Homo sapiens: one gene and its partner. The protein of the gene in region 1 interacts with the protein of each later gene in a pairwise test. Each region holds a gene or a part of one and is shown on either strand. Other genes may lie near its edges.

Region 1 (3,825 bases):
TACCCCTTCACCCTGCCTCCCAGGTTATGTAACATTTGTCCTGCAAGCTGAGGACAGAGACCTTGTCTGTTGTTGACAGCTACGTGACCAGCACATAGCATGAACCTGGTAAATACTAAGCGCTCACTCAGTAAATATTTGTTGGCTGGCTTACTGACAATCTACAGTCTGTTTTATAAGTTTTTATAGGATGTTTTAGACCTAGAAAAAACCTTTGGGATGCATCTAGCAAGTTTTTTTCCATCATTCTTATATATAGGCGAATGGCTGGCATATTCTAAGCATCAAAGATTAGGTTGACTTATTGAGTGAAAGGTACTAAGTGCCATAGAGCTTTAAAGAACAGAACATTTGTTTTTGAATTGCAGAAAGGATAAATCAGAAAGATTAAAGGAGGATAGAGAACACTGGGATTAAAGTCTGGGGCAGGATTTTAATGGTAGAAAGACAGAGGAAAGGAAGACAGAAGGCGTGAAATGATAGAAAGCTAAAACTTGCAGAACTGAAGACACATACAGTTAAGCAGATGATGTGCGGCTTCTCTTCAAAGGAGGGAGGATGAGATCGAATGTCTGTGGGGTACACTACGTGCCAAACACTGTCTTTAGCAGCTTTCTAGTCTTTATTTAATTCTGACAACTCTAGGAAATACTTTTATCTTCACTTTTAGAAGACTGAGGTTTAGCGAGGCTAATGCTGTTAGTCCAAATGATAATCATGTTGCTAATTCCAGTGCATGACAAGATAATATGATTTAAACTTTTTTCCTTTAATACTTTTGTTTGTGTTATATTTCTAAATTAATTCATCTCCCAGATCCGCCTGGTTATTTGAACAGTGTCTTGCTCATAGCCAATTTTAAAAGACTTAATGGTATCATGTAAACACTCATTCAGGAAAGAATTTCTGTTATTCTTCCCAACCCACCGCCTGCCCTCCCCACCCCCAACCAAAGTTTGTTTCCAATTGTAGGCTCTGAAACAACCACTTTGGTCCTGTCTCCTGCACCTTGATCTTCCTTAGGTTATTGTAAAAGCTAGTCAACTCACAGGTATCATAATTGATCATTCTTTTATGGCTGTAAAAAAAAATCCATCATGTCTATTAAAGGATACTCTCCTAGTATGTTAGCATTTTAAGATCAAAATAGCATTTGATTTTTGGGCACTGTTTCACATTTATTTGTGTTAGTTTAAGATGGGGAGGGTGGTATTGTTATTTACATTTTATATGGAAATACATTTAATTGGCAGGGATGCTTATTTTCAGGGGATCAGTAGGAGAGTCAGAATCAGGTCACTGACTTTGTTGTTTACTTCTTAGAGGCTACTAAAAGTATCAAATAGGTACCCTATGTTCACAGATTATTAAAGGTCTGTAAATTCTATTTTCTACCCCCTTACAACAACTATATAAATTATAGAAATGTGTCTCTATCTACAGTTATATTAGGCATCACAGTCAACAGATGCATGAAAGAAATGCCGTGTTATTGAAGACCTGGAAACTAGCCCAGTATTTTAATATTAAATAAAAATTCAACAGAGATGGAGAAGACATGTGTTATACAAGGACTAAAATTTTGCAATTAATAACATTAAGTTTATACTGGGTCCTGGGCCTTAATGAAGGGTCAAATTTCTTTGTTCAGCCTGAAAGTATGTATGAATTACACTTGATTTTTGCTATACTTTTTATTCAGATAATGCATTTAACATTTTTTCACTCACAGATATCTTATTTTGAGTAGTAGTATTTGCAAAACAGAAAGCCTTCTAGGATCTGCCATGTTGGTGAAATTGAATGGAGCCAGCTCAGGGCTTATGATTTACTTTTTTCCAGACTTTCCCTCTTGGAATTCTTTTAGCTCTCAGCAAAATTAATTAAGCAGGCTTTTTTTAAAATAGGAATTTTAACTCTTATTCTTGTCTGTGCAGGTAATTTTCCTATCTTTATACATAGATCTTCCTGACCCCTCCTCCTGACCCCACTCTGTCACTGAGGCTGGAGTGCAGTGGTGTGATCACAGCTCACTGCAGCCTCAACCTCCTAGGCTCAAGTGATCTTCCCACCTCAGCCTCTCAAGTAGTTAGGACTACAGGCACATGCCACAACGCCTGGCTAATTTCTTAATTTTTGTTTTTTTTTAGAGACAGGGTCTCACTGTGTTGCCCAGGCTGATCTTGAACTTCTGGGCCCAAGTGATCCTCCCACCTTGGCTTCCCAAAGTTCTGGGATTACAGGCATGAGCCACACCTGGCCCTGATTTGGCAGGGGGAGAGAAAATTAACCTTTGACTAGAATCAGGAGTTTATGGGTTCATTCAAAACATGGGTGTACTTTTGGCTTGCCTGGGTACAGAATTGTGCAGAGAATCCGCATGCTTCTTATACCAAGTAACAGTTTGAACGGAGACATTGTCTATTTTGGAACTTCTATGAGAAAGCAAAGAAAGTTCGCAAGCAGGAGCAAAAGGAAAATCAGGGTTTAGCAGGAGAGCTGGAAGTGATGGATACAGGTGAATTCCAGTTGATGACTTAAGCTGATTTTTTTTTTTAAGAGACAGGTTCTCACTACATTGACCAGGCTGGTCTGGAACTCTTGAGCTCAAGCAGTCCTCCTGCTTCAGCTTCTGAGCAGTTGGGGCTACAGGTACATGACACTGTGTACAGCTTTACTAAGCTGATCATCATTCCAGGGATAAATTAGGTTGTAAGTCAGGGTTGCCTGTGGTACTATATTTGAAGATTATGCACTTAAAAAGAAAGAGGCATATGCTTTAGATTCATTTCCTTGTCGCTATTGGCCTTATGCTTATATCACTTATGGAAGATGGATAGGGAAATCTTGAATCGTGGACAAATTGTGGGAAAGTTTCCAAATCAAGAAATATAGGCTGGTTGCGGTGGCTGATGCCTGTAATCTCAGCATTTTGGGAGGCTGAGGTAGGTGGTTTGTTTGAGCCCAGGAGTTCCAGACCAGCCTGGGCAACATAGCAAAACCCTGTCTCTGCTAAAAATACAAAAAAATTGGCCAGGCATGGTGGTGCATGCCTGTAGTCCAGCTACTCAGGAGGCTGAGGTGGGAGGATTGCTTCAGCCTGGGAGGTGGATTCTGCAGTGAGCTGTGATCACGCCACTGCACTCCAGCCTGGGCCACAGAGTAAGACCCTGTCTCAAAAAAATAATTAATTTTTTAAAAAAGAAATATAAATTCTCTTTTAGTAAGCTTAAGGCTATGAAAAGTATAATTGATGCATCATCCTGTGACAGTTTATAAGTGTTGAATCTGTTACGTTTGTTAGTACTTTGAAAAGTATTGAAAAACTGTTTTTCTCCTCATAGATGGATGGTGACAGTTCTACAACAGATGCTTCTCAACTAGGAATCTCTGCAGACTATATTGGAGGAAGTCATTATGTTATACAGCCTCATGATGGTAAGCAAGCCACAATTAGAACCAAATTCTCAAGTTGAAGCAAGTTAGAAAGTGGACATTTCATTAATATGGTGTTCTAGGCTACTTGTGTCTTTATAGGAAAATTTACAATCTTGTGTTACGGTTCAATGAGAAAGTCTAAAAAGGCGTACCATGCTATTTTTATTAGAAATAGTCTTCAAAAGAATGAGTCCTTGAAAAGACTTTTACTATAAAAATACACCTTGTCTAAAATCTGTACAGTTTCTTTTAAAATTTGTTATCGACTTCCTGTTTAAATGTTAAATAAGAAATTTATAATCAATTGATAGGGTAACTAAAATAATTATTTAGAGGGTGAGTTAAATTTCTAGCTATTATATTTCTTGCACTTATGATTTATTTTTG
Region 2 (3,825 bases), on another chromosome or scaffold:
AGAAGTACCAAGACAAATTGAAGAGACAAGCTCTTTGAAAGAGCTTTTGATATCTAGCAGGGCATCTTTTGCAGAAGGATAAATTGAAGAATTAATAACCACATTTATTTATTAATTATTTATTTATTTATTGAGACAGAGTCTCACTCTGTCTCCCAGGCTGGAGGGCAGTGGCACAATCTCGGCTCACTGTAACCTCTGCCTCCCAGGTTCAGGTGATTCTCCTGCCTCAGCCACCCAAGTAGCTTCGGACTGGAGGCATGCGCCACCACGCCTGGCTAATTTTTGTATTTTTAGTAGAGACGGAGTTTCACCATGTTGTTCAGGCTGGTCTTGAACTCCTGACCTCAAGCAATCCACCCACCTTGGCCTCCCAAAGTGCTGGGATTACAGGTGTGAGCCACCATGCCTGGCCAATAACCACACTTATTAATAACAAAAATTCCCTCAAATATTTTTAAGAAGAAAAGCCACTGATATAAATGAAAGATGCAGTCACATTCCATCATGGTGATTTATACTTTGAGGAATTTTTTTGGAGAGGGAAGAGTATGGTGTTTCTGGAAACGTGAGTTGCAGAAATAATACATATTTGTTGTGAAAATCTGTAAATTACAGAAAATGGAAAAAAATGAAAATCATCTGTAATTGAACTCCACAAAAAAACTAACCTGTTACTATTGCCACCCCTATTGCCCAAGCTCCACATTTAGGGGAACAGATGGGATTTGAGCCCAAGTCCCAGGCCTCCAATGCCCTTTGTGTTTAACAGCTGTGTTATCTTCCTTCCTCTTCGTATACAAATGTTTTGCATTTATAGTTTCTGACATATTTATCTCTTAAAATACATATTAAAATAATTAGAGTTAAAGCCTTTTGTTTAAATTAAGCTGCTGACTTTCTCACATCATCTGTGTTAGTAAATCATATACAAGCCAAGAAAACAGGGCTTGGAAGCAGAATCTCTGTTACAGGCTAATGTTCTCCGAGTGTGCATGCACGCGTGTGTGTGTGTGTCAGTGCATTCAAATGCACAGCCACAAACCACTTCCTCAGCCCAAAGTTTGACAGTGAGGAAGCTGGCACACTGGCACTTCAGACCACTAGTTGCTAGTGGACATTTTGTCAGCCTGATGAACAATAATCATCAATATCTATTGTGTGCCTGCCAAATGCCAAGCCACATTCCAAGCACTCTACATGTATTTTCTCCTTTAATTCTCTCAGCCACTTTGTGAAATAGATACCATTATTATCCCCATTTCCAAATGAGAAAAGTAAGGCATGGGAAGGTTAACTAACTATTTTGCCCAAGGTGGCACAGCTAGTTAGTGGTGGAACCAGGGTAGACACCATGCTCTTAACCCCTATGCTCCACCACTGCCCCTGAATGTATGGCAGGGAGCCTAGACCTCAATACCCAGTCAGAGGAGAAGAAAATTGTGACCATTGTCAATGCCAAGCCAAGCCTTAAACCTGCCCTGGTGACTTCTGAGGACACATGGGGGCCTAGAAATTGTGACTCTAGTGGCAACTGGCTCTACTCACACAGCCCACCAACCGGCCCCAACACTGTGTCCCAGGGGTGTTAGAATCAAGCAGAAAGAACAAGGCTTTGTCATTCTTAACCTTCACAGAGCTTTTGTCATTCTAATCAAGCTCCTAACACCTTGTACAGCATGTAGATAACGCTTGATATGCTACCTTTTTATCATTTATTATTAAATAATATTATTAAATAAATAATATCATTTGTTATTAATGCATTTATCTTCTATTGTAGTTAAGACAGGAATCAAATGGCTGAAATGAAGACCAGATCAGAATTGGAATAATAGCCAGGTTGAGGTGAGGCTGAAGTACAGATCTAAGACTTCCAGAATTTCTCCTGAAGCGGAACCCAGTGGGTCTCAGAGCCCAAAGTGAGCCTGAGTTCCTCAGGCCCCTTGCGGGGGGATAAAGGAATTGGCTGAGCCAGGATGAGGCTGAAGTCAGGCGAGTCTCTCCTGATGCCCACATGTATACATGGCGTCCTGTTGCCACCTTATCTATGCTGCACATCCAGAAAAATTATTGGTTGGTGAAAAGAAGTGATTACATAGAAATGCCTGTTTTTGCTCCCTTAGATTGAAAAACTCTACAGGACAAACAAGGATATATTTCCAAAAAGGTAGAGTAAGGCACCTATAAGCCAAAGCCGAAGTGATCACTGTTTATGGTCCTACATGTGCATTCTTTCCAATCCTTGAAACAAGCCGGCCAGGAAGGCATTATGAGTCTCATTTTAAAGATGAGGCAGCTGAAATACAGGGAGGTTATGTACCTTTTAAGGTTCCACATAGGTAAGCATAAGAAATGAGATTCATAACTAGTGTGTTTGACACTAAGCCTATTCTCCCCCTCCCAGTCTTTTTTTATAGGCAGTCTTTGTCTGTGGCCCACGCTGGAGTATAATGGCATGATCATAGCTCACTGCAGCCTCGAGCTCCTGGACTCAAGTGATCCTCCCACTTCAGCCTCCAGAGTAGCTGGGACTACAGGTGCACTCCTCTATACCCAGCCTTTGTGTGTGTGTGTGTGTGTGTGTGTGTGTGTGTGTGTGGAGACCATGTCTCATTACGTTGCCAGGGCTGGTCTCAAACTCCTGGGCTCAAGCAATCCTCCCGTCTCAACCTTCCAAGATAAATCGTATGTTCTTTTAATATTGCTGTATTACCTCTGTGTATTCTTTCCTTGACTAGGATATACAAATTTTCAGGCATATCTATATAATTATTATTTTTTAGGACATTCAAGTGGGTTACAGGAGCCCAGGGAAGTTCTCCATTTTTCTTCACCAAAGGTGAGAAAGAGGCTTTGCCATTAACATATGGGCCACATCTGCCCACCACACACCTCAACTCATAACCCCTTGTGAGCCATCTCTGACATTCCCTGCCAAAGCCAGTACCACTAGCCTGCAGCCAGGCTTGCTCTCCCTGCCACAAAGATCACCTGCCAGGTGTTGGTTACAATTTGGAAGTCTGGTTCCAACACTTCCAGGGATCTCAAACAAGTGCCTGCCACCCTCAAATGACCAAATCTCCTCTCCTAAGTCTGGCCAAAACTTTCTTGTTTCTGCTTCAAGTTGCCTTTTTTAGTTTTTATTTTGGGGATTGAACAAGAACTATTCCAGAATTGCAAAAGATAGTTTCCATGGTTCCACCCACCCAAACACTAAAACTGAGAGACGCGGGACAGATGCAACGTGCTGCTGTCCAGTTCCATGTGGGAGATGTCATTGCTCTGCCAAGTCTCTGGAGATGATCTGCCCCTTGGGTAAAAGAGATTTCAGTGCATACTCATTTATACACCATACACATTTCTAAAAAGTTAGTCTACAACTATCTTGGAACTTTTAAAACATCAAAAAAGAAAGTTATGTATTAACCAGCTATCCTCCCAGTATGTCTCTGTTTATCCCAAAGGGAGTGATTAAAATTTGCTGACAGCTTTAAAAATTATCAGGGAATTGCCAGAATGTCCCAAGTTTAATAATTAACAAAGCTTAGAACGCAGAGTCAAATCCAGAGACTTTTAAACATAAATCATTGTGTTGGTCACCTACTAATTCGAAAATTCTACACACTACACTCTTGATTTTGGCCATTTCATCTACTAAAACCTCTATCGTACACATTTGTAACCCCAATTTCATTCCAACTGCTAGATTTCTCTCCCTGGGTGTCCTCCCAGAACCTCCAACTCTAGACGTCCTATCTTTTCCCAAAACCTTCTCTCCCTCTTCTTCATATCCCTCTTTTTGCTAATATCACCATCAGATGT

Evidence for each region.
Region 2: the proteins of NFYB (region 1) and MAOB interact in a two-hybrid assay, tested with the Homo sapiens proteins (one large-scale study listed by BioGRID and IntAct).

The regions. Positions count from the first base shown.
Region 1 is NC_000012.12:104,128,037-104,131,861, reverse strand, and holds part of NFYB (nuclear transcription factor Y subunit beta), read left to right. Parts: intron 1-23; exon of another isoform or gene 24-99; coding exon of another isoform or gene 100-108; intron 109-972; exon of another isoform or gene 973-1,051; intron 1,052-3,344; coding exon 3,345-3,438; intron 3,439-3,825. UniProt on the Homo sapiens protein: Component of the sequence-specific heterotrimeric transcription factor (NF-Y) which specifically recognizes a 5'-CCAAT-3' box motif found in the promoters of its target genes.
Region 2 is NC_000023.11:43,875,845-43,879,669, forward strand, and holds part of MAOB (amine oxidase [flavin-containing] B), read right to left. Parts: intron 1-3,825.